Regions from separate parts of the Homo sapiens genome. Here regions 1, 2, 4, 5, 6 and 7 are each reported to be linked to region 3. The links are microRNA targets in miRTarBase. Many come from high-throughput screens and were not tested one by one. Region 3 holds a microRNA gene; each other region holds the end of a gene's coding sequence.

What was found. The annotated mature microRNA hsa-miR-101-3p reads UACAGUACUGUGAUAACUGAA and lies in region 3 at 1,018-1,038, opposite strand. An mRNA with a match to its seed (bases 2 to 7 or 8) in the 3' UTR can be bound and repressed. Matches are read on the target gene's strand: a 7mer-m8 pairs with bases 2 to 8, a 7mer-A1 pairs with bases 2 to 7 and ends in A, and an 8mer does both.
Region 1: the mRNA of GMEB2 is a reported target of hsa-miR-101-3p. The part of its 3' UTR that is shown has no 7-base or 8-base seed match.
Region 2: miRTarBase lists RANBP9 as a target of hsa-miR-101-3p. Seed matches in the 3' UTR shown: 8mer at 804-811.
Region 4: the mRNA of NANOGNB is a reported target of hsa-miR-101-3p. Seed matches in the 3' UTR shown: 7mer-A1 at 587-593.
Region 5: the mRNA of PRDM16 is a reported target of hsa-miR-101-3p. Seed matches in the 3' UTR shown: 7mer-A1 at 1,854-1,860.
Region 6: miRTarBase lists MYO9A as a target of hsa-miR-101-3p. The part of its 3' UTR that is shown has no 7-base or 8-base seed match.
Region 7: miRTarBase lists TSPAN12 as a target of hsa-miR-101-3p. Seed matches in the 3' UTR shown: 7mer-A1 at 1,536-1,542.

What each region holds. Positions count from the first base shown.
Region 1 is chr20:63,587,395-63,590,509 of GRCh38, forward strand. It overlaps GMEB2 (glucocorticoid modulatory element binding protein 2), which reads right to left. Exons shown (of 10, transcript NM_012384.5): 10 at 211-3,115. The coding sequence ends at 2,695. Among named protein-coding and RNA genes, the nearest start is that of HELZ2, 15 kb to the left of the region's middle. RefSeq lists enhancers at 84-253, 847-1,016, 2,934-3,103 and a cis regulatory region at 169.
Region 2 is chr6:13,619,544-13,622,658 of GRCh38, reverse strand. It overlaps RANBP9 (RAN binding protein 9), which reads left to right. Exons shown (of 14, transcript NM_005493.3): 14 at 167-1,161. The coding sequence ends at 297. NOL7 (nucleolar protein 7) reads right to left here. Exons shown (of 8, transcript NM_016167.5): 6 at 2,330-2,451; 7 at 2,174-2,251; 8 at 947-1,905. The coding sequence ends at 1,832. Among named protein-coding and RNA genes, the nearest start is that of NOL7, 5.8 kb to the right of the region's middle.
Region 3 is chr9:4,848,268-4,851,382 of GRCh38, reverse strand. It overlaps MIR101-2 (microRNA 101-2), which reads right to left and starts at 1,086; the gene lies at 1,008-1,086. It overlaps RCL1 (RNA terminal phosphate cyclase like 1), which reads right to left. Exons shown (of 9, transcript NM_005772.5): 8 at 1,833-1,936. It overlaps LOC124902113 (a long non-coding RNA gene), which reads right to left and starts at 1,016. Exons shown (of 2, transcript XR_007061402.1): 1 at 1-1,016.
Region 4 is chr12:7,773,467-7,776,581 of GRCh38, forward strand. It overlaps NANOGNB (NANOG neighbor homeobox), which reads left to right. Exons shown (of 4, transcript NM_001145465.1): 4 at 334-655. The coding sequence ends at 385. Among named protein-coding and RNA genes, the nearest start is that of NANOGNB, 9.8 kb to the left of the region's middle.
Region 5 is chr1:3,433,301-3,436,300 of GRCh38, reverse strand. It overlaps PRDM16 (PR/SET domain 16), which reads right to left. Exons shown (of 17, transcript NM_022114.4): 17 at 1-2,624. The coding sequence ends at 2,490. Among named protein-coding and RNA genes, the nearest start is that of ARHGEF16, 20 kb to the left of the region's middle. RefSeq lists an enhancer at 2,341-2,850.
Region 6 is chr15:71,823,908-71,827,022 of GRCh38, forward strand. It overlaps MYO9A (myosin IXA), which reads right to left. Exons shown (of 42, transcript NM_006901.4): 42 at 1-3,115. The coding sequence ends at 2,673. Among named protein-coding and RNA genes, the nearest start is that of NR2E3, 15 kb to the left of the region's middle.
Region 7 is chr7:120,785,938-120,788,937 of GRCh38, reverse strand. TSPAN12 (tetraspanin 12) reads left to right here. Exons shown (of 8, transcript NM_012338.4): 8 at 41-1,618. The coding sequence ends at 346. Among named protein-coding and RNA genes, the nearest start is that of TSPAN12, 71 kb to the left of the region's middle.

The DNA.
Region 1 (3,115 bases), not on the chromosome of region 3:
CAAGGGCACAGGGCACCTGCTGTGATGAAAACAGCTTTGACCTCGGGACACCCTGGAAGGGTCCTGAAGCCCCCAGGCCACACTTGGAAGAACGAAGCATGTGGGTGTGAGTGGTCCGGGGCGGGGGTGGCAGCCAGCGCTGTTTGCGTTGGGCGTGTTTATAGACTTGATTTCTCTCCACACTTCATTCCAAGAGATAGACACTCAAACTATGAAAATTGTTTTTATTTTAAATCAAAGTACCAGGCAGATACTTGCAAAACAACATACAAAGCAAAACTCAAACATGGCCCTTCCCTAGGGCGCCTCTGAGCAGGCACAGAGAAGTTCTCACCCTCTGCAAAATCCAATCCAATCCTATCTTCTCAGAAAACCAAACCAAAGGCAGCCATGAAAACCCGTGTTCTGTACGTGGTTGAGAAGGTCCTCCTCTCTGAGTACTGGCTGGCCCCAAGGCGCAGAACTGGGAGGTCCAGGGAACCCTGCCCCCGAGGAGCCAGCAGGACCTGGAGGAGCCGGGGGCGGTGCTGACAACAACCTTCCCCACCCACTGCAGTGTGGTTCCCATGAGGATGAGGGCTTCTCCAGGGCCCTTCCCCACGCTGGGGCTTGGAGCCCCTGCCAGAAGCAGCTGGGTTGGCGGTAGATGTCCCCGAGGGCCTTGGGAAGCACTGGGAATGGGCTCCCAGCCCTGGTGGAATGGGGGATTGGGAATTAATTCTGAAGCTGGTTGTGGCTTATTTTTGTATGGCTCTGAAATTAACTTCCTCTCCCTATGCCTCAGTAGCTAAGGGGCAGGGGCAGAAAAGGTCCCAACCCTGTTCTTAAAAAGAAAGGAAATGAACCCACAACCCACTGGAAGTTCTGTTGACGAGGGCTGTCAAGGCAGACGCACTCGTGACTTTGACAAAGGGAAGCAGCTGGAAGGTTGCGGGTCCCAGGGTCACAGGCAGCTGTATTAGTGACAGGTTCTGAGCTGGTGGGTGGGGGCCGCAGGGCTCTCCTGACCCCCGTAGGGTCATACCGCTGCATGCTGCAGAACTCAACTAGAGTGGAAATGAGTTTAAAACGGAGTATGTACATCAAAAGATCAACATCACGCCGAAACCAGCTGACTGTGACAACAGCAAACAAAAATGTAACAGAGAAAACAAACAAGACACAGCCTCAGTAGCTTGACATGGGTGAGGGCAGCCAGGACAGGGCCCTGGTGACAATGGCGCAGAGGTGGGGTCTGGGCCGCTCACTGGACGGACAGCCAGCCAGTTCCCTTCGGAGCAGTGAAGTGGGACACAGGACCCTCGCATTGCGGGGCCTCAGACGGGCCTTCAACTGCCGACAGAATCAGCAGGAGCGTCCAGGGGAATCTGGCACTCAGGGTCCTCCCGGGACATGCCCTGTTGGAGACGGCAGGAGGCCTGGGCTGGCTGCTCCCTGAGATGCCTGCCCCAGGACCCTGGCCTGGAGGGGCCTCAGCCTGGTCTTCCTTGTGAGTCCAAGGCCAGGTCTCAGGACAGCCACAGACAGCCCTTCCAGACAGGCTCTGGGCTCCACCTTCGGCAGCTGCCCTGAGCAGCCCACCCGGGGCAGCCTCCTGAACACCCAGGGGCTCTCCCTTGGACAGAGACCACCAAGGGCCAGCCCAGGGGCTGCATGGGGGCCGGGGGCCAGGGAGCCAAGGGCTGTTCCGTGGCCAAGCAGCCCAAGCTGAAGGGCCCACATGGGAATCCTCGACCTCCATAGTGACTGGTTCTGTTTATGCCTCTGCCCCAGGACTGAAGCCCTAGGGACACACCTCATGGATCTCAGACCCCTGGGAGGGGCCGGCTCAGGGACAGGCTGCCCAGGACCTCCGCACCCGGTCAAGTGCACTCACAGGGGCTCAGGGGCCACCCAAAGAGCTAACTCGGGAAGCCTAGGCACTCACCATTATTTTGGTTGAAAATGCTATAAATCTGACTCTTCCTAGAAGCCTACTAAGCAATTCACTTAAAAACACCCTCAGTACATGTGCAACAATGCCTGGACCACGCCTCGTCTGTGCGGCCCCTGGGCCACCTGAGCACCGGCTGGGGGCGGGGGAGGCAGGCACCCATCAGGATCTGCACCCCAAGCTCCGGGTGCATGTTCCCAACTGGAGGAGAACGGGGCGCCAGCCACACTAAACCTACAGAAAACTGTGGGAAGAAACCAAATCCATAGGATCCAGAGGTTTCACACTTGGGCTTAGCTCCCAAGTCATGAGTTAGTAACGTCCCCAGGGACCTGGCTGGGTGCAGACATGGGGGCCTCGTGACCTGCTGCACCGCGTCCAGCACCTGCAGGGTCGCGCTCGGCACCTGGCTCTGCTTCCTCTGTCTCTGCTGCACCCAGGCTCCCCCTAGCCCCCGCCCACCTGGCTCCTGATCAAGGCCCAATGTGTAAACAGTATTAATAAGCAACAGATGGAAAAATATATTTCCCAAGAAAAAAGGGGGAGGAAACGTGGGACCTGAAGACCGATTTTCCAGGTTGCTCTCGCTGTTCTGTCCCCTTCTCTCTTCTCGTGATTTGTTTTGGCGATTCCTCTCTTTGGTTCTGCAGACCACGTGACCCACCTGCCCGAGCCAGCCCTGCGGCCTCTGCCCGCTCCCTGCTGCCGCGGCTGAGAGACAGCCAGCCCTGTCCGTCCCAGGGGCCTCGCCCTCCTGTCGGCTACTTCCGCTCGTGGTCCTCTGCCATGGCAGCCACCTCAATGGTGGCCGTGTGCTCCTCAGGCCCGGGGGCAGCCCCTGCGGGCACTGTCACAATTGTGCTGGAGCCAGGCGAGGCCTGGGCCACGTTCTGCAGGGTGGGGCCCAGGCCAGGCAACGTGAGCAGCTGTAGCGGGCTGACCACCTTGAACACCGTGCTACCGTCCTGCACGGCGGCCGTGCTCAGGACCGTGAGGCTGGACGCGTCCGGGTGGATCTCCACTGTGCTGGGGTAGGTGGAGCCGGAAGAGGCCAAGACTGTGTATCCCCCGAGCAGCGGGGAGGCCGGGGAGCTGGCGGGGGGCGCCTGAAGGGAACCCTTGCCCAGGACGGTGGACGGCAGGGTGGACACCACTTTACCAAGGGGCACGCTGGTCAGCTGG
Region 2 (3,115 bases), not on the chromosome of region 3:
TGTCCAAGGCGGCATCTGTCTTTTGCTTAGAAACCTTCATTTGCTGATATTTCAGAGTGGTATGGGAGTGGTAGTTTTTAAAGTCATTGCAGTATTCTCCTGATTGAAATGTTTTTTAAAATGTCTTGCTAATTGCTGTTCTCATTTTTAAATTATTTTTCCTCAGAAACCCACAATCTGCCAAAGCAACCTCCACTTGCCCTAGCAATGGGACAGGCCACACAATGTCTAGGACTGATGGCTCGATCAGGAATTGGATCCTGCGCATTTGCCACAGTGGAAGACTACCTACATTAGCTATGCATTTCAAGAGCTCACACTTATATTGTGGCATATAGTCAACATGGAAGTAGACCAGCTCTGCTGATTTGAAATTTAGATTTTTTAAATTATGTACTGGGGACAGGTTTTTGTCGCTTTACATTGCTTCCTAGTTTACAGCATGATGCAAATGATTTTCTAACTTAGTGTTAGGAGAAATTATTTTCCATCTTTAACCTCTTAGTTGTCTAAGAGTTAAATATTACTGAATTTCAGACGTTCAAATTGATCATCACAAATCCTTTAAAACAATTACCTAAAAGAAACCAAAAATCCTGCCTTCTTTGTGGGGGAGGGGGGAGAGAGGGGAAGGAAATGGAACAAGTTGTGTTTGTGTTAGCATGTGGGTGATGTAAACTTCAAATTGGGAGATGTTCCGACCCCCACTCCCATATAAGCATTCAATCAGTGTAACTTGCAAAATGCATAAACATCCGACAGTTTGAATTTATAGTGTTGATGGAAGAAATCATTTTTAATGTGTACTGTAAAACTTGAAATACTCAGGAGCTGAGTGAATATGTTTGTTGCTACTTACAATCCCGACCTGTTAGTCCCAGTAGTTTTGTTTTAACATGGTCTTTTTCAACTTTGTTTCCTGTTTAACTACAGATGACTTCTGTTGTAGACTCACAAGTTTAACTGTTGTATTATAACAGTATTACATGTCAACGGTGTGGTTATGACCTTTATTTATATAAAAACCAAATATTTAGTCAATTTACCGTGTCTTAATTTAATCTTTGTACACCTTCCATTTTTAAGTGCTTAAATGAGTACTATATTGCAATAAAATGTAGTGATATAATTAACCAGCCATTAAAAATTTACTTCTACAGATACAGTGTCAATTGAGTTTATATATTAGGTACTTGCATACTTTTTATGATTACTATGAAAATTAGAGCAATTAAAATTAATGGTTTCTACAATTAATCTGAGTTCTACAACCTAAAATTGCCTTCAGTTTACTGGCATCCCTGGATTAGGGTTAGACCTGATATTGTGGCTGACACAGAAAGGCAACAGGAAATTAACTTCATTATTTTCATATTCATAATATGGCATATGAGACTCACCAGGCAAGCAAATCCCCAGACTGGTTAAAAGTAAAAATTTAAAAGCTGTTAGCTATATTTTGTGCACTGAATCTTTAATAGCAAATTGTCTACAGGCTGCAGTTAGAGACTTTGCTGGAATATCCATTTCTCCTTTTAGTCCGTGCCATTTTTGCCACCCCTCTAACCCGGGGAGAGTAGAAGAGGTGCTGTTGCTGATGTGGGTATGGCTTGAATTCAGTTAAATATATTAAAAAGAAAACAATTCCTTCTTAAACCACTTTTTCCTCTAGGATTGCAAGGCACAGTTCTACTCCAGAAGAATGAAATGTGGTTGAGCACTTCCTCAAATAGGTTTATGATTTTTATAATGATCCTTTAAAATGATCTATGAATGATTTATTAGATAAATTCTATACATACAAAGTACAGATTCTTCATTTAGCATTGATTTACTTCTTAGTTTTCATCTTTCTGACCATCCACCGTCTTTTAAACCTCTTGGCATTTTGTTTTTTTTGGATTCCTAGAATATAAAGTTTTCTGCAGTAAGTATATTAGAAAAACATAATTCAAAATTTTTTTAATTACTCTATATGAATGTAATTACTAAAACTGGGTGGGCTTATTATACTTTAGATGTATATACATACTACATTGACCTGTTTTTCACAAGTAACTTAATATATAAGCCATTATAAGGGGGAAAAGTATAATTATGAACTATCTCCTTCAAAAGAACATTATTCAACATATAAAGCTATTAGAGACAGGAGAATAAAGCTGGATCTTACCCCAAGCATTATTCAAAAACTGGACAGCAGCTCTTTTCACTGGTAACCTCTTGTTGGCAAGAGACAGGAACTTATTTACTAGAAAAGAAAGGTATTTATCATTTCACAGTTTTATTTGCAGTAAAAAGTGAGAAAAATAGTCCATAAAAAAATTACCAGTAGTCCTGTTGGTTCCTGGCCCATATAATGAATTATGTATGAAGGCTTGTGCTGCTTGTTGCCTTGAATCTCTCAGATCTTGGTCTTTTAGCCTTACGGCCAAGTAGCTTTTATTCTGGCTGTTGATCAATATAAAAGGTTAAATAAGAATTACACATGCTTACTTTCTTTTTTTTTTCTTCCTGAGACAGAGTCTCGCTCTGTCACCCAGGCTGCGCGATCTCAGCTCACTGCAACTTCTGCCTCCCAGGTTCAAGCAACTTGCCTGCCTCAGCCTCCTGAATAGTGGGATTACAGGTGCCTGCCACCATGCCCAGCTAATTTTTTTATTTTCAGTAGAGACGGGGTTTCACCATGTTGGCCAGGCTGGTCTCGAACTCCTGACCTTGTGATCCACCAGCCTCGGCCTCCCAAAGTGCTGGGATTACAGGCATGAGCCACCGTGCCCAGGCTACATGCTTACTTTAAAATATTTTTATCATTTGTCTCATAGTGATAAATGAAACTAATTTTATATATGCACAGATAGGATAAAACTAAATTACAAGGACTACAAGAAACAGACACTCATATTTTAGTAGAGCACATGGTGGTTTTGTTCATCAGTTGAACAATCAGCATCTCAGATAGATCCAACTGAAGAACTTGTTCCTGGACTTTTGTACTAAAATATACTAAAACCAAAAGTCAAAACATTAGTTAACAGGAAATTGTTCGGATACATGTAGTAAAAGAGAATTGACAGCATGATTTCCAAATCGATTGTGCCAAATAAGTTTTTCC
Region 3 (3,115 bases):
CCAAAAAGAACGGAGGCTTCCCTTTCCCACCCTGGCAGACCCGTCTGCACAAAGCTCTGGGAGGCAGCAGAATATCTCTAAGCCCCAGCCTCAAGATACATCATCTTACAATTTGTGCTACTCCTTTAAAGCTCCATTCAGAGCAGGACACTGTTTTCACAGGAGAGGAAGTCATTTTATGCAAGTTTTCTGGAAGAAAAGACACTACAATTAATGTTTGGTGAGAAGATGTGTTGAAGAGGACACAGGAACTTTCAAAAATGTCCAGTCATATCTTGAGCATCTCTGCAAAGCTTGAAAACATCATACAGGTCCTGGAGCCAAATTGAAAAATCTCCAAAAGCAAAAGAAAAAAAGTGTCACGAAAAAAAACATATATGTATTCCATTTTCACAGAATGTTCTGCCAAACCCCATGCCCCAGGACCACACACATTCAAGACAACACCCCATACCTCATACCGTGTGTGCAAGCAGGACTTCCCCAGGCCTGAAGCAAGGGCTGGGAAACGGCAGCTACGAGCCCAGCTACAAAGCCGGTGGGGCCACAGTGGCCACACAGCTGGCAGCCGCCTCCAGTGAGCTCTCTACAGGAAGCGAGTCTCTGTACCTAGGGTGCCATTCTTCCAGCCCTCATCTCCTCTCCAAGTACTTAACTACCAAGTCTATTTTAGCATTGTTTACTACTGATGTTACCACGCCATTTAGGATTACTCAATTTTAGGTATCCTGTCCTACGAAATACTTTTACACAAGCTATCAGGAGATAATGTGGTCCTTACCAGTTTCCTGCTTATCAGTCTTCCCTCTCTGCTAACAGAATGTATTCTCTTCCATTTTCCTGTTCTAAAAAAACCTCCCACCACGAATTCCAAAAAAAAAAAAAAAAAGAAAAAAAAAAGCCTCCATAAGAATTTATTTCAAGCTCCTGGTTTTCATGCCCCCAACGCCATGGCCCAAGGGTGCATAGCCCCACCGCAGTCCTCAACCCTTTCTCAATGTGATGGCACCACCATTCTTCAGTTATCACAGTACTGTACCTTTCAGATATACAGCATCGGTACCATGATAACCGAAAAAGGACAGTTCAGTCTCATATCTACCTGAATATTCCCTGCCACCCAGCTCACCAACCTCAGATGGGCCATATGATGATCTCCAAGTATGCAAGCACGTGAAAACACACACACACAATGTCAGTACTCAAATAGGCTGTTTTCCGCAACCTCATTTACTATCAATAGGAAATGCTTCTTTCACAGTGTCATTTATAATTCAAGTCTTCTGACACTGTTCTTTTTGAAGAGTGCTTGCTTTTACACCACAGCAGTCAACTTCTGCTAACATTCAACAATCCAAACTCACTTCTACAATTCCCTACTAGTCCAGTAGCATTAATACAAACTCTGTCTTTTGTCATCTTTCCCAGTGAGCTCATATCCTATCATCTTAGACAAAAAGCCTGTTTTCCCACAGCAAGTTAGACAGCTAAGGAAAAGAATGATTAAAAAAAAACTAGTAATAAAATCCAAGCTACACCAAACCAGGAGTTTACCTCTAACCTGGAAACAAAATCTAAAGCACGAACAAAATAACTGCCCAATAGAGATCATGCAATTTCAGTTACCTGGGATTAAGGAAGGAAAGAAATGCAAAAATCCTTGTATGTAAAAATAAACACCAGGTTAAGAGTGACAACTGCTGGCTGATTTGAGGATAAACACAAGCAGGTGTTCATAGTGCAGGCTCTGTGCAGCACAACACCCTTTGTCATTTTGGGCAATGAGAAAATTACACTGGACAGAATAACGAGGTTGAAAAAGAATAACTTACGTGTAGGGAGAGAGAGGGCCTAGCAGGACTTTGGAAACATCCTGCTGTCCAAGGGTCATGAGTAGTAGCGCCAGGCTTTGGTTGGTCGAGTCTACGCATCCACCCTGTAAACACAAATTAATAATTGTACAAACCAGAAAATGGAAAGCCAACAAAAGAGAGGAGGAAAAAAAAAACCAGAAACATACACTCATAATATCAAAATCCAAAGTTCAAGCAACAATAAAACAGAATACAGGTCTTATAAGAGTAATCATTGTATCAACTAACTGTAGAGGGTTAAACTAACAGTTAATTAGAGCAACTGTAATAGTTGAGACTATCAGAATGAGACTATCAGATTCAAATCTTCTTAAGTGAATCTAGTAAAAAAAAAAAAAAATGAAACTTTCCCTTTATCATTAAAGCAGCAGCAGGAGGACATCATCTTTATTGAGTATATGCAAAAAAAAAAAAATCTTAATCAGTTCTAGAAGATGTAGAGTTAATTCCAAGGGTTAAGTGGATGACGCTCATATTTATTGAATCTGTCACAGAACAACACAGTCTATCTGACATGAAACGGCCTTTTCATGGCCTTACTTTTACACTTATTCAAATACATTCAGGAAACTGCTTGCCATACTCTATTAACTTCTCTCCTTTATCTCTTCCTGAGTTCCTTAAAACTGAAGACTTGTTAAGGTTAGATCCCTTTATTCTTACTACTTATGTATAAAATTATGCCTTCCACCCCCTTTTCCTTCCCTTTCTTCCAAATTAACAAGCAGAACAGACTTCTCTTCAAACACTTTCTCCTGAGGTACAACTGCTTAGGTTGCCTTTCTTCTTTTGTTTTTCATTTTCTCAGCCATTTTAACTGTTTTGCCTCCACTAGACGCATACATAAGCATACAAACACGCTTTCTGATCATTCTTTCTGGAATAACTTTAAAACATATTGTACATAGTCAAAGAAGGATGACCTTGAATTTCTACATATTTTGCACAGGTCAAAATTAGAAATCCAGTCTGACCAAGGCACGTTACTATCCAAGGCTAGACTGAACAGGATAGGTGGCCAGCAGTGTGGTTCATATGGCTACAACTGCCCCTGCCTCCTTTTTAAGGCATGTAGGGTAGGAAATAAATCCATTTTCAGATACAGACACTCTGAAATTCTCTGGCTGTCAGATATCATTTAGTAGCCCTAATAATGGTGAAGGAAATAAGGATTGATCTTACTGCTAGCCTTTATGAAAATCTATTGCACGTCCCTAAACTACCTTAGTTAATAAAGGACA
Region 4 (3,115 bases), not on the chromosome of region 3:
AAGGCAGGTGGATCACCTGAGGTCAGGAGTTTGGGACCAGCCTGACTAACATGGTGAAACTCCATCTCTACTAAAAATACAAAAAAAAAAAAAAAAAAAAAAAAAAAAAAAAAGCCAGGCTTGGTGGCAGGTGCCTGTAATCCCAGCTACTCGGGAGGCTGAGGCAGGAGAATTGCTTGACCTGGGAGATGGAGGTTGCAGTCAGCCGAGATTGTGCCATTGCACTCCAGCTTGGGTGACAAGAGTGAAACTCCATCTCAAAAAAAAATTTAAAATAAATAAATATATAGACTGTGTTGCGAAACTCTTTTTTTTTTTTTTTTTTTTAAACAGATGGAGATCTCTGTGTTGCCAAGGCTGGTCTCGAACTCCTGCCCTCAAGTGATCTTCCTATTTTGGCCTCCAGAAATGCTGTGATTACAAGCATGAGCCATCGCACTGGCTAAGACATTTTACATGACACCATTCTCACCAATAAATGGAGTTCTGAAAGGATAAACAAGAAAACATTAACAGTCGTTGATTCCGTGGAGTAGAACTAAATGAGGGGTATGCAAAGGAGTTTTTATGTGTTTTATTTTTACCCTACTGTAGATTTAAAGTTTTTATAATGGATGTTAATTGATTTTATTTAAGAAAAAAAATCGAGTCAAGGCCGGGCACAGTGGAGCACGCCTGTAATCCCAGCACTTTGGGAAGCCAAGACGGGTGGGTTACCTGAGGTCAGGAGTTCGAGACCAGCCTGACTAACATGATGAAACCCTGTCTCTACTAAATACAAAAAAATTAGCCGGGCGTGGTGGTGTATGCCTGTAATCCAAGCTACTTGGGAGGCTGAGACAGGAGAATCGCTTGTACCTGGGAAGTGGAGGTTGCAGTGAGTCAAGGTCGCACAATTGCATTCCAGTCTGGGCAACATGAGCGAAACTCTGTCTCAAAAAAAAAAAAAAGAAAAAGAAAATAAAAAAATCAATGAAGAAATTACCAACCTGTGGAAATGTTTTGAGACTGAAAGGGAAATCCATTATAGAAGCTAACGGGTTCAGTGCCTTCTGCAATTTGTCAATATATTTCTAAACATCCCCTCCAAACATGACTTTTCTCTACAAATGTGATTATACTCCTGGAAGGGCAATTTGTTGTTGTTGTTGTTTTTGTGATAGGATCTTGCTCTGTTGCCCAGGCTGGAGTGCAGTGGTGCAGTCTCGGCTCACGCAACCTCTGCCTGGGTTAAAGTGATTCTCCTGCCTCAGCCTCCCAAGTAGCTGGGATTATAGGCGTGAGCTACAGTGCCCAGGCAAGGGTGACTGTTTTCTGATGTGTGACTTGAGTCAGAGGACTAAGGTCATTTAGATTTTTTTTCTTTTTGAGATGGAGTTTCCCTCTTGTTGCCCAGACTGGAGTGCAATGGTGCGATCTTGGCTCACCACAGCCTCCGCCTCCCGGGTTCAAGTGATTCTCCTGCCTCAGCCTCCGGAGTAGCTGGGATTACAGGCATGCGCCACCACGCCTGGCTACTTTTGTATTTTTAGTAGAGACAGGGTTTCTCCATGTTGGTCAGGCTGGTCTCGAACTCCTGACCTCAGGTGATCTGCCTGCCTCGGCCTCCCAAAGTGCTGGGATTACAGGCATAAGCCACCACGCCTGGACCAATCTTTGTATTTTTTGTAGAGACTGGGTTTCATCATGTTGCCCAGGCTGATCTTGAACACCTGGACTCTACCAATTGTCTCACCTCTGCCTCACAAACTGTTGGAATTATAGGCATGGGCCACTGTGCCCGGCTTCTAATATTCTTTAAATGCTTTTCACCTTAAACTAATTTTGTTGTTTATTATTAAGAACACTGATATACTCTGCATAGCTTGCCATCACACTTAGGATAAAATTATGATTCCTGACTATGGCCTGTAAAAACCTAAAAGATCTGGTCCCTGCTAAAGTCTCCAATCTCATCTGACCACATTCCCTGACTTGCTCGTTACACGCCAAACACACCTTCTTTTGTTTCTCAGAGACAGTAAGTTTCTTACCATCTCCAGACTTATGCTCTTGCTGTTCCCACAGCTTACAATGGTCTGCTTGCAGATTTGAGAGTGGCTGCCTCCTTTGCAACATTCAGATCTCACTTCTAATGTCACCTATTCAAAAATGTTTTCTGTGACTACCTATCTGAAGTAGCCCTACACATACTCAGTCATCTGGTCATATTATTTATTTTTATTTACTTTATAGCACTCAGCATCATCTAAAATTACTATATTTATATATTGCTTCATCTCTCTACCCCCACCATAATGAGAGCTCTCTTAGTGTTGGAAACTTGTTGATCTCATTCATTGTCATAATCACATGTATTTCAACTAGTTTCTGATATACAGTAGGTACTCAATAAATATTATTGAATAAATATGGAATAAAAATTTATTGGCCTGGCGCTGTGGCTCATGCCTGTAATCCTAGCACTTTGGGAGGCTGAGGCCGGTGGATCACTTGAAGTCAGGAGTTCAAAACCAGCCTGGCCAACATGGTGAAACCCAATCTCTACTAAAAATTCAAAAAAATTAGCCAAGCATGGTGGCAGGCGCCTATAGTCCCAGCTACTTGGGAGGCTGAGGCAGGAGAATCGCTTGAACCCAGGAGGCAGAGGTTGCAGTAAGCTGAGATGGCACCACTGCAATCCAGCCTGGGTGACACAGCAAAACTCCATCTCAAAATAAATAAATAAACAAATGAATTAATTAAATTAAAATAAAGTGTATAAGTTAGTAGGGTTTGATACATTATTTCATGGGGAATTTAATATTTTTCTTTTTTTTTGAGATGGAGTTTCCCTCTTGTTGCTCAGGCTGGAGTGCAATGGTGTGATCTCAGCTCTCTGCACCCTCCGCCTCCCAGGTTCATGCAATTCTCCTGCCTCAACCTCCCCAGTAGCTGGGATTACAGGCATATGCCACCATGCCTGGCTAATTCTATATTTTTAGTAGAGATGAAGTTTCTCTGTGTTGGTCAGGCTGGTCTCGAACTCCCAACCTCAGGTGAGCCACCACGCCTCACCAATATTGTATTTTTAGTAGAGATGGTGTTTTACCATGTTGGCCAAGCTGGTCTCCAA
Region 5 (3,000 bases), not on the chromosome of region 3:
GCTCTCATCGGTTCTGCTCCTGCTGAAAAGACACGCTGAGGGCTCCATCCGTCCGAATGTCCCACTTCAGAGAGACGGGGTCATATTGCAAAAAAAAAAAAGCACACACCTTACTCTTTCGCAGAAGAAACCATATAATTTGGGTTTACAGAAATGGGGTGTTTATGTCTGAGGTTGAATTTTTATAAGAATCCCATCTAGATCAAGGGAAACTGGAAATTCCTACGGGGTACCTGGTGGGTCTGACCCAGGGGATGTTGTGGAAACGCGTGAGAAGGCCTGAGCAGTTGTGTTTGCAGATCCTGGATCCTTCCCGACACGCCAGCTGGCTCTTCTGCAGGCAGCTCCCCCGCTGCCCCGGCGGGGCCACCCCATGGCCCCAGCGCACGCACAGGTGGGTCCTGTCTTGCCTCGTTGTGCAGATCTGGCGTGGGAGGAATCCCTTTCACTGTGATCCGTCGGGTTGAGCCTCCTGCAGGAGCCTCCCCGTGGCACGTCTTCAGTGCAAGCCTGGACCACCCGGCACCCACAGAGACGATTGTCTTTTGTCCTGGAGCAGCCAGGACACCTCCCGTCACCGCTGGGGACAGCCTGAGGAGATGTCCACGCGTGACACAAAGCCTGAGGAGATGTCCACACGTGACACAAACCCACACCAAGGCGGCTTGCACCACTCCTGTTTGTATTTACGCTCTTTTTTTTTAAAGGGCAACTTGGGCATTTTTTTTCTCTTCTTTTTGGGACTCTATCATCATTTTTTCTTCCAAACAATACAAGAAATAAATAGAACACTTGTCTTAAATGCAAATGTAACTGAAACGCAAATTTAACAAAAACATATGATTGTCTGGTAAACGGCAGCAGGGACAGCAGGATTCATGGGGGGGACGGGGGTATTTGGCACATAAAAAATCGCCCCACTCCCACACGACACACAACCTTATCACACGGTTTTGGTCCTTCACCAGATACTTATATTAACATTATTTCTTCACAATAAGAATGTCTAATGCCAAAAATACTGTTAAGGAGGAAATAAAATAAGAAAAGAAATGAATTAGAAAAAATTACAAGTTATATACAGATTAAGGTAAATTCCATCAGGGAAAAAAATTATTATTTGAAATTGGCCCCTATGGGAATAATTTAAAGCCCATCCGAGTGGGGAAGAAGTTGCGTCCCAAGAGAGGGAGGCGGCTGGGCCCGGGGGGCTGTGCTGTCTCTGCTCCTTGCGGCAGGTTCCCCCGACGCCCTTCTGTTCTCAAGCTGTGTCTCGCCAAGAACCCGCAGGAAGAGCGACGTGACGACTGTGTCGTCCATCCGGAGTCTCAGGCACAGGTGCGGCTTGGTGGCCCGGAGCGATCCGCTGGGATTGCTCCCCAGGGCAGCCACGTGGAGGACACCGGAGCCGCTGGGGTCAGGTGGGAGGTGGGAGACCCAGGACGTGGCCAAGGCCCTGCCTTCAGAGGACGGCGCTGGGTTCCCGCGTGGGGTGGCCGAGGCAGGGACAGAGGAGGGAAGGAAGATGGGTGCCCGGCCACATCTCTGCATGGCGGATCCAAGCCACAGGCCCTCGACTTCCCCATATAATTGAGGGATCTTGGGTGGGGACCTGTGGATTCCTCTGAAGGCCACGTGGCGGTCCTGACACCAATTCCATGTCACACGAGGGCAGGCACACTTCCCATCCCAGCCTCGGGCAGGCCTGCAGCCCAGGGCGCCCTGCCTAAGACTTCTTCGGCCGTCTGCATGGTTCACGGGTGTGGCCCCGCGCCTCTTGTTCTGCCTCGGGGCACCCAGCATCACCTTGGCTTATACAAATAGGGACAGAGATAGAAAATTTCTCCATTATCTACAGTATAAAGAATACACCCAGGCACAGTGCGGGTTCCCAGGCAGACTCGGGTTTGCAAATGAGCTCAAATTTCAAAGCAATGCAAAATTACTTTTAAAAAACAATTTGCAAGTCATTTTTTGATTTTTAAAAAATACTGTCTATTTTTAAAACCACATGCTTAAATAGACTCTGCAGTCAATACGGTTACCAAAAGGGTTATTCTTGTCATTTCATTATAAAAATCATTTGAGTGATCTCTCTCTTTTGAGCACACCAGTCTATCCATTCCCTTCCGCGACCCCACGCGGGCACCCGGCAGTGGCCACCAGCTTCTGTCTCAGCAGAGCGTCCACCTGCCCACTGGCTGATTCTGCGAGGCAGCTCCGTTGGCTGTCTTTGGACGGCCACCTGCATGGCCGTCACTGAACAGTGTTCTCAAGACCAATCCTTGGAGATGGTGAGACTCTACGACTGCTTTAGGGACTTTTGGGATCTGAGTTTCCATTGGAAAAGTCGGAATGAACCATGGTGGGTGGGGAGGATGCTGAGGAGTGGCCACACGCAGGGACAGGGTTCTCCGGGGCCCCGCCCGCCTCCGTCCTTCGTGGCTGGTGCCCTCGCTCTGGCCACCGGCCCCCGGCTGCCCAGCCCGTCAGAGGTGGTTGATGGGGTGAAATGCTCCAGACTCCGACGTGGCTCCAGTGACCTTCAACCAAGCGTCCAGAGAACCCTGGGAGGGGGTGTGGAGAGGAGTGTCTTCGGAAAGGGACAGCATCATTGCATATGCCTGGCGGGGAGGGGATGACACACACACAGGACAGGCAGGTGAGCGCGTGGGCAGGGCGGGCCATCCCAGACAGGCAGGTGAGCGCGTGGGCAGGGCGGGCCATCCCAGACAGGCAGGTGAGCGCGTGGGCAGGGCGGGCCATCCCAGACAGGCAGGTGAGCGCGTGGGCAGGGCGGGCCATCCCAGACAGGCAGCAGATGGGCAGGGCAGGCCATCCTGGACAGGCAGGTGAGTGTGTGGGCAGGACAGGCCATCCCCGGCCAGCAGGGCCAAGCCTCGTCCGTTCCCAGCCTCCCGTGGCCCTGGCCTGGCTCAACCTTGCCCTGGGCCACAGGGGGCAGAAGGAACAAGAGGGACTAAGACCCGGATTCTCCCC
Region 6 (3,115 bases), not on the chromosome of region 3:
GTAATGCGGCATCACTTTGTGGTGACATAACTTTACCATGCAGAGGGCCAGTGAGAACAGATGGATGCAGACACAGCGTTTGGTTCTGAAGGTTTTTAAGAGTTATGGCTTCATCTCTTGATCAGGCCAACAAGGCCTACTACCCTATGTAAACAACGGCTTTCCCTCAAAGGGAGGGCCCCACACTGCTCTCCACTCTTATCATTTTGTGGCTCTCTCCTCCTCACCCACCCACCCCAATCCTGGCAGATTAAATTACTAGAAATCCACAAATCTAGCAACTGAAAAAACAAGTTTTTTTAATTGAATTTTATCCAAACTGGAGTTTCAGGTCCCTGAGAAAAATTATAAAGTCTCTTAACATCCATCACCTAGTTCCTTTAAAGTGACCTACATCAGTCGTTTTTTAACTGCCAAAAAACTTATTTTGCCAAAAAAGCCCCACAAAGATTTAGAAGGAAGAACATGTGCCAACATATGTTCTTCTGGCCATTCCTCTGGGCCACAGGAAATTATTCCATAAGGGCAATCTCTTTTTTTCATACAGGATTTAACCAACATTCTGGAGCAAGTGCAGAGTAACAATTAATGCCCAGCAGTACACTACTCTCCCAAGAACACTGAAACACAGACTGTGCAACCTGGCACGGGGCTGAGGAACCAGCAATCCCACTCTAACACACCATGCTGAGGGGTTTTCCTCTATCCTCTAGGAGATTCTCTGAAATTCAGATTTTTAAAAGCTTAACATTATTTATTACTCCTCAGGACAAGATGAACAAGGTGGCAGATGTCTGTGGGATATAAAGCATAACATTTGCTCATTAACTATCATTATTCTGGAGATTTTAATGGCTTCCTTTCTCTGGCTCAATTCTGAACCCAAAGTAGGGAGAGGTAAGACTCCTGCTACCTTTAGCTGCCACTCAGAATTATGCTCCAAGTCTAACCTCTGGGGCTGGCCAATAACCACTGAGGCAGTGGCGTGAGGTTCAGTGTTGTGTAACAGGAGAGAGAGACTCTGCCTTAACAAAAGACTTAATATTTCCACAACTTCAAAGAAGTATGAAAAGGAAGAATACCCAAAATACAGGTTATAGATGGTAAAGGCTCTTTTTCAGAGCAGTGCATGTAGTAGCAAGACAAGATGCATTTAGTAACTTTAAAAATAAACATTTCACATACTTATCTCAAGAAAGGCTATCATGTTTCATTTTTTATATATTATAAATAGCAAAAACAGATTTCTAATCCCACAAATGCTAAGATACTTAAAATGCTATTATAACTCATGTGTATGAAGACCACCCAGTGGTGAAAATGATGTCTTACTAATTCCCTCAACCCAGGGACGAATGGCTCTCATCCCCCTGTCCAGTGGCCCCTCATCTGTGGGAAGAAATTCCATGGGAAGGAGGGAAGCACAAGGTTAAAAAGAAATATGCCTACTATACATACATATTTACAATAAACTTCAGTAACCAGAATATTAACAAAAATAGCTTCAAGTAGTCCTTGATTTTTTTCCATCTATTTAATACTGATAGTCTGAGAAAAGGAAGATAAAAGTTAGTTAGTTAGATAGGTCATATTAAAAACCTTTTTATTTTTTGGCAGCTTTCTGTAACACTTACTTACTTATTCATGCAATATTGTATGTGAATGTTTTTGGAAACTAACTAAACGGTCACATTATTTGTTTGTTTGTTTGAGTCTGAGTCTGTGGTGGGAATCCACCAGCAGATGAACAGGCTCATATGCGGTTTTCGGTTTAATCTATACAAAGAGAAAAGCCTGAATGGCTTAGGATGAAACCTTCATAAGTTTAGGGATCACCATGTCTCTGGGAAACTAAAAAATAATGTAGAAGAATCTGATCCTAGGACCAAGAAACATGAGAACAGTATGGCTACTGACACTTCAGCCCATGCAATGTATTTGGCAGGAACTAAACAGGAGTTAAACCAGCACTGATTACTATGACATCAAACATCATCAAAAAAAATAGGTATTCTCTTCTTCACTGTATAACAAGATATCTGAGACACGCTCTGATGGCTTAATGGAAACAATCACGGTTTTTTTTTGTTTTTTTTTTTTTGTTTTTTTTTTTTGTTTTTGCTTTCCCCAGAATATAACATGGAGTGTTTTTTCAGAAATCTTAAAATAGAGGGATTAGGCTTTTTGTTTGTAAGTAAGTTTTTGGAAAAAAATTATATTCTACCCTAGCTCCTAACTATCCCAAAATAAACCCAAAGGCTTTTGCTTTCACGGTTAAGAAAGATTTATACGTTTTCTTCAAATGTCAGAAATGAGAGGGTCCCTCAGGACAGCAATATCCCCCCTAGTTCAACACCCACCTTTGGGAAGGGAAAAGAGGGTGGGGGAGAGGCAACTACAACTGACCCAAATCCCCAGGCCCTAGGTGGCTTTGTATAGTAAAAATCTCAATTCAAATACAACAGCCAAGGCACAGCTGGCACCATCCCCAGCAGGCTTTCTGCTTCTGCAGGAGGCCCAGGAATTCAGCACATACAGTCTTAGCCATATGCTTAGAAAAGAGGCAGGACCACAATTAGGATTGACTATTGTGGACGAGGTGATGAAACGCAGCCCCAAAGGTGAGATTTGTTTACCACTCTGTAGCCACGGAGGGACACACATCTGCCGGTTCAGACCATAAATTCATTATTTCCAAAGAGTGCTAGCTGTTGGTTGGAGGTGCAGTCTGGGTCCACAGTTTTTCTGCGGCCAGACATGACTGTCCCCTCTGGGGTCTCTTTGGTTTTCTGAGGTGAGTTTTTCACATTCTTTAATTTTTGTTTGCCCTTTTCCGGGTTGAAGGTTCCTCTGCTGATGAACTGAGGCTTGTCTTCCAGGAATTTGGTCTGGCCCAATGGTCCTTCCATTCCCAGGGCCTCATTACCTGAGGCAGCTCGGTAGAATGGAGATTTGGAATAAATCTGAAATAGTTTTCTGGTCCCATGAGATGATGCCGTGTTAGACAGACATAAAGAGGAGACCGAAGAGTCCACGACATCTAAAGAGTCTTGCTGCTTTTTAAGTTGCTTTCGCAACTTGCTGGAAGGTTCAGACTTGCCAGCTGTCTTCAGGG
Region 7 (3,000 bases), not on the chromosome of region 3:
ACATATCTAAAGTAATGTTGACCATGTATTTCTTTTACAGGGTTGTGGGAAGAAAATGTATTCCTTTTTGAGAGGAACCAAACAACTGCAGGTGCTGAGGTTTCTGGGAATCTCCATTGGGGTGACACAAATCCTGGCCATGATTCTCACCATTACTCTGCTCTGGGCTCTGTATTATGATAGAAGGGAGCCGGGGACAGACCAAATGATGTCCTTGAAGAATGACAACTCTCAGCACCTGTCATGTCCCTCAGTAGAACTGTTGAAACCAAGCCTGTCAAGAATCTTTGAACACACATCCATGGCAAACAGCTTTAATACACACTTTGAGATGGAGGAGTTATAAAAAGAAATGTCACAGAAGAAAACCACAAACTTGTTTTACTGGACTTGTGAATTTTTGAGTACATACTATGTGTTTCAGAAATATGTAGAAATAAAAATGTTGCCATAAAATAACACCTAAGCATATACTATTCTATGCTTTAAAATGAGGATGGAAAAGTTTCATGTCATAAGTCACCACCTGGACAATAATTGATGCCCTTAAAATGCTGAAGACAGATGTCATACCCACTGTGTAGCCTGTGTATGACTTTTACTGAACACAGTTATGTTTTGAGGCAGCATGGTTTGATTAGCATTTCCGCATCCATGCAAACGAGTCACATATGGTGGGACTGGAGCCATAGTAAAGGTTGATTTACTTCTACCAACTAGTATATAAAGTACTAATTAAATGCTAACATAGGAAGTTAGAAAATACTAATAACTTTTATTACTCAGCGATCTATTCTTCTGATGCTAAATAAATTATATATCAGAAAACTTTCAATATTGGTGACTACCTAAATGTGATTTTTGCTGGTTACTAAAATATTCTTACCACTTAAAAGAGCAAGCTAACACATTGTCTTAAGCTGATCAGGGATTTTTTGTATATAAGTCTGTGTTAAATCTGTATAATTCAGTCGATTTCAGTTCTGATAATGTTAAGAATAACCATTATGAAAAGGAAAATTTGTCCTGTATAGCATCATTATTTTTAGCCTTTCCTGTTAATAAAGCTTTACTATTCTGTCCTGGGCTTATATTACACATATAACTGTTATTTAAATACTTAACCACTAATTTTGAAAATTACCAGTGTGATACATAGGAATCATTATTCAGAATGTAGTCTGGTCTTTAGGAAGTATTAATAAGAAAATTTGCACATAACTTAGTTGATTCAGAAAGGACTTGTATGCTGTTTTTCTCCCAAATGAAGACTCTTTTTGACACTAAACACTTTTTAAAAAGCTTATCTTTGCCTTCTCCAAACAAGAAGCAATAGTCTCCAAGTCAATATAAATTCTACAGAAAATAGTGTTCTTTTTCTCCAGAAAAATGCTTGTGAGAATCATTAAAACATGTGACAATTTAGAGATTCTTTGTTTTATTTCACTGATTAATATACTGTGGCAAATTACACAGATTATTAAATTTTTTTACAAGAGTATAGTATATTTATTTGAAATGGGAAAAGTGCATTTTACTGTATTTTGTGTATTTTGTTTATTTCTCAGAATATGGAAAGAAAATTAAAATGTGTCAATAAATATTTTCTAGAGAGTAATGATTTGTCTCTGCCTACTTTTTAATACATTACAAGCACTTATGCCACTTGAGAAGATTGTCAAGGGGAGAAAAACATGAGAAAGAATGATTGCATAAAGTATTAATATTGATTTCCAAACTCCGGAATGGACCTATAAGAATATGTATTTTCACTGAGAAGAGTCAAAAAGATGCCCATTTTTCACTTTTGCTTTTTACCTAAATGTTAAATAATATACTTGTTTGAGATAATATAAAAATATGCCCATTTGTGTTCATCTTTTCAATGTTTGCATATCACAGTTTTATAACTTATTAATTTTTAAGAGACTATGAGTCTCTTAGTTAATTTCAAATTCTCTTCAAATGAGTTAAGGAATATAATCCTTGAAATTGACTGCCATGTTTAAAATCTTCCATAGATTTTAATGAAAACTGAGTACATTACTTGTTCAATCAGAGCCAAAAGCATCCCTTTTAATAACTTCCTCAATACCCCAAATCCCTGTAATTTCACCTAAAATACCCACGTAACTGAGATAGCTATGTATGAGTTTTGTTTGAATTATTTGTATAATGGTCAAATTTAGCTGCTGCTTTTTTTGATATGTCTTACAGTCACAGCAAGAGCAAGCATATAATATGTTGGGCTCAGTAAAATAAAAAGTCCTCAAATTATAAAAGTTGCTTTCTACATTTTTAGACCTCAGATATTTTGATGTATTACCTGATACACTACCCTCTAGAATGGTCAACATAAATTTAGACAATCGTTTTGTATATAATACACTTGCTTAATGGGAATGAATGACATTTATAGCAGTAGCTCACAAAGCCTCTTATGGTAGCAGTGCACCTGGAATAATAAAACTGCAAGGGAGTTAAAAAAGTATATTTAATGCAGTAGAGCTGAGGGAGTTCACTATTTGGGTACATTGCAAACAAAACTGTTAACTGTTTCTTTGGGAATTTTTAAAAGCTTTCTTTGGTTAAAAAAAAAAATCACCATTTTTTAAAAGTAGAAATTTAAGAAGATTATTTTTAGACTGGTTAAAAGTCCATTCAAAGTGCCCTGGAGACTCAGAGATGGCAACAAGAGATGATGTCTGTCCTTAAACACTGTAGAATCTGGGTTAGAGACACTTGTGCTAACCACAGGAAAAATAAATAAGGGAATATGCAGTGAGTGGGGCCCTTCTTAAGAATAAGAGATGGAGTAGAGTGGAATTAAGGCAGCTATGCCAAGGAGATGGCGTTCAAGCTGGATCAGAAGGAGCAGTGGAGTCTAGCTGGCTCATGGAAAATATTCCATGAGCCATGAGTTTGAGGTTAAAAAGTATACATTATTTTGGAGTTATGACTTATGGTTCAATGTGGTTAGATCATAGAATGATTGAAGAG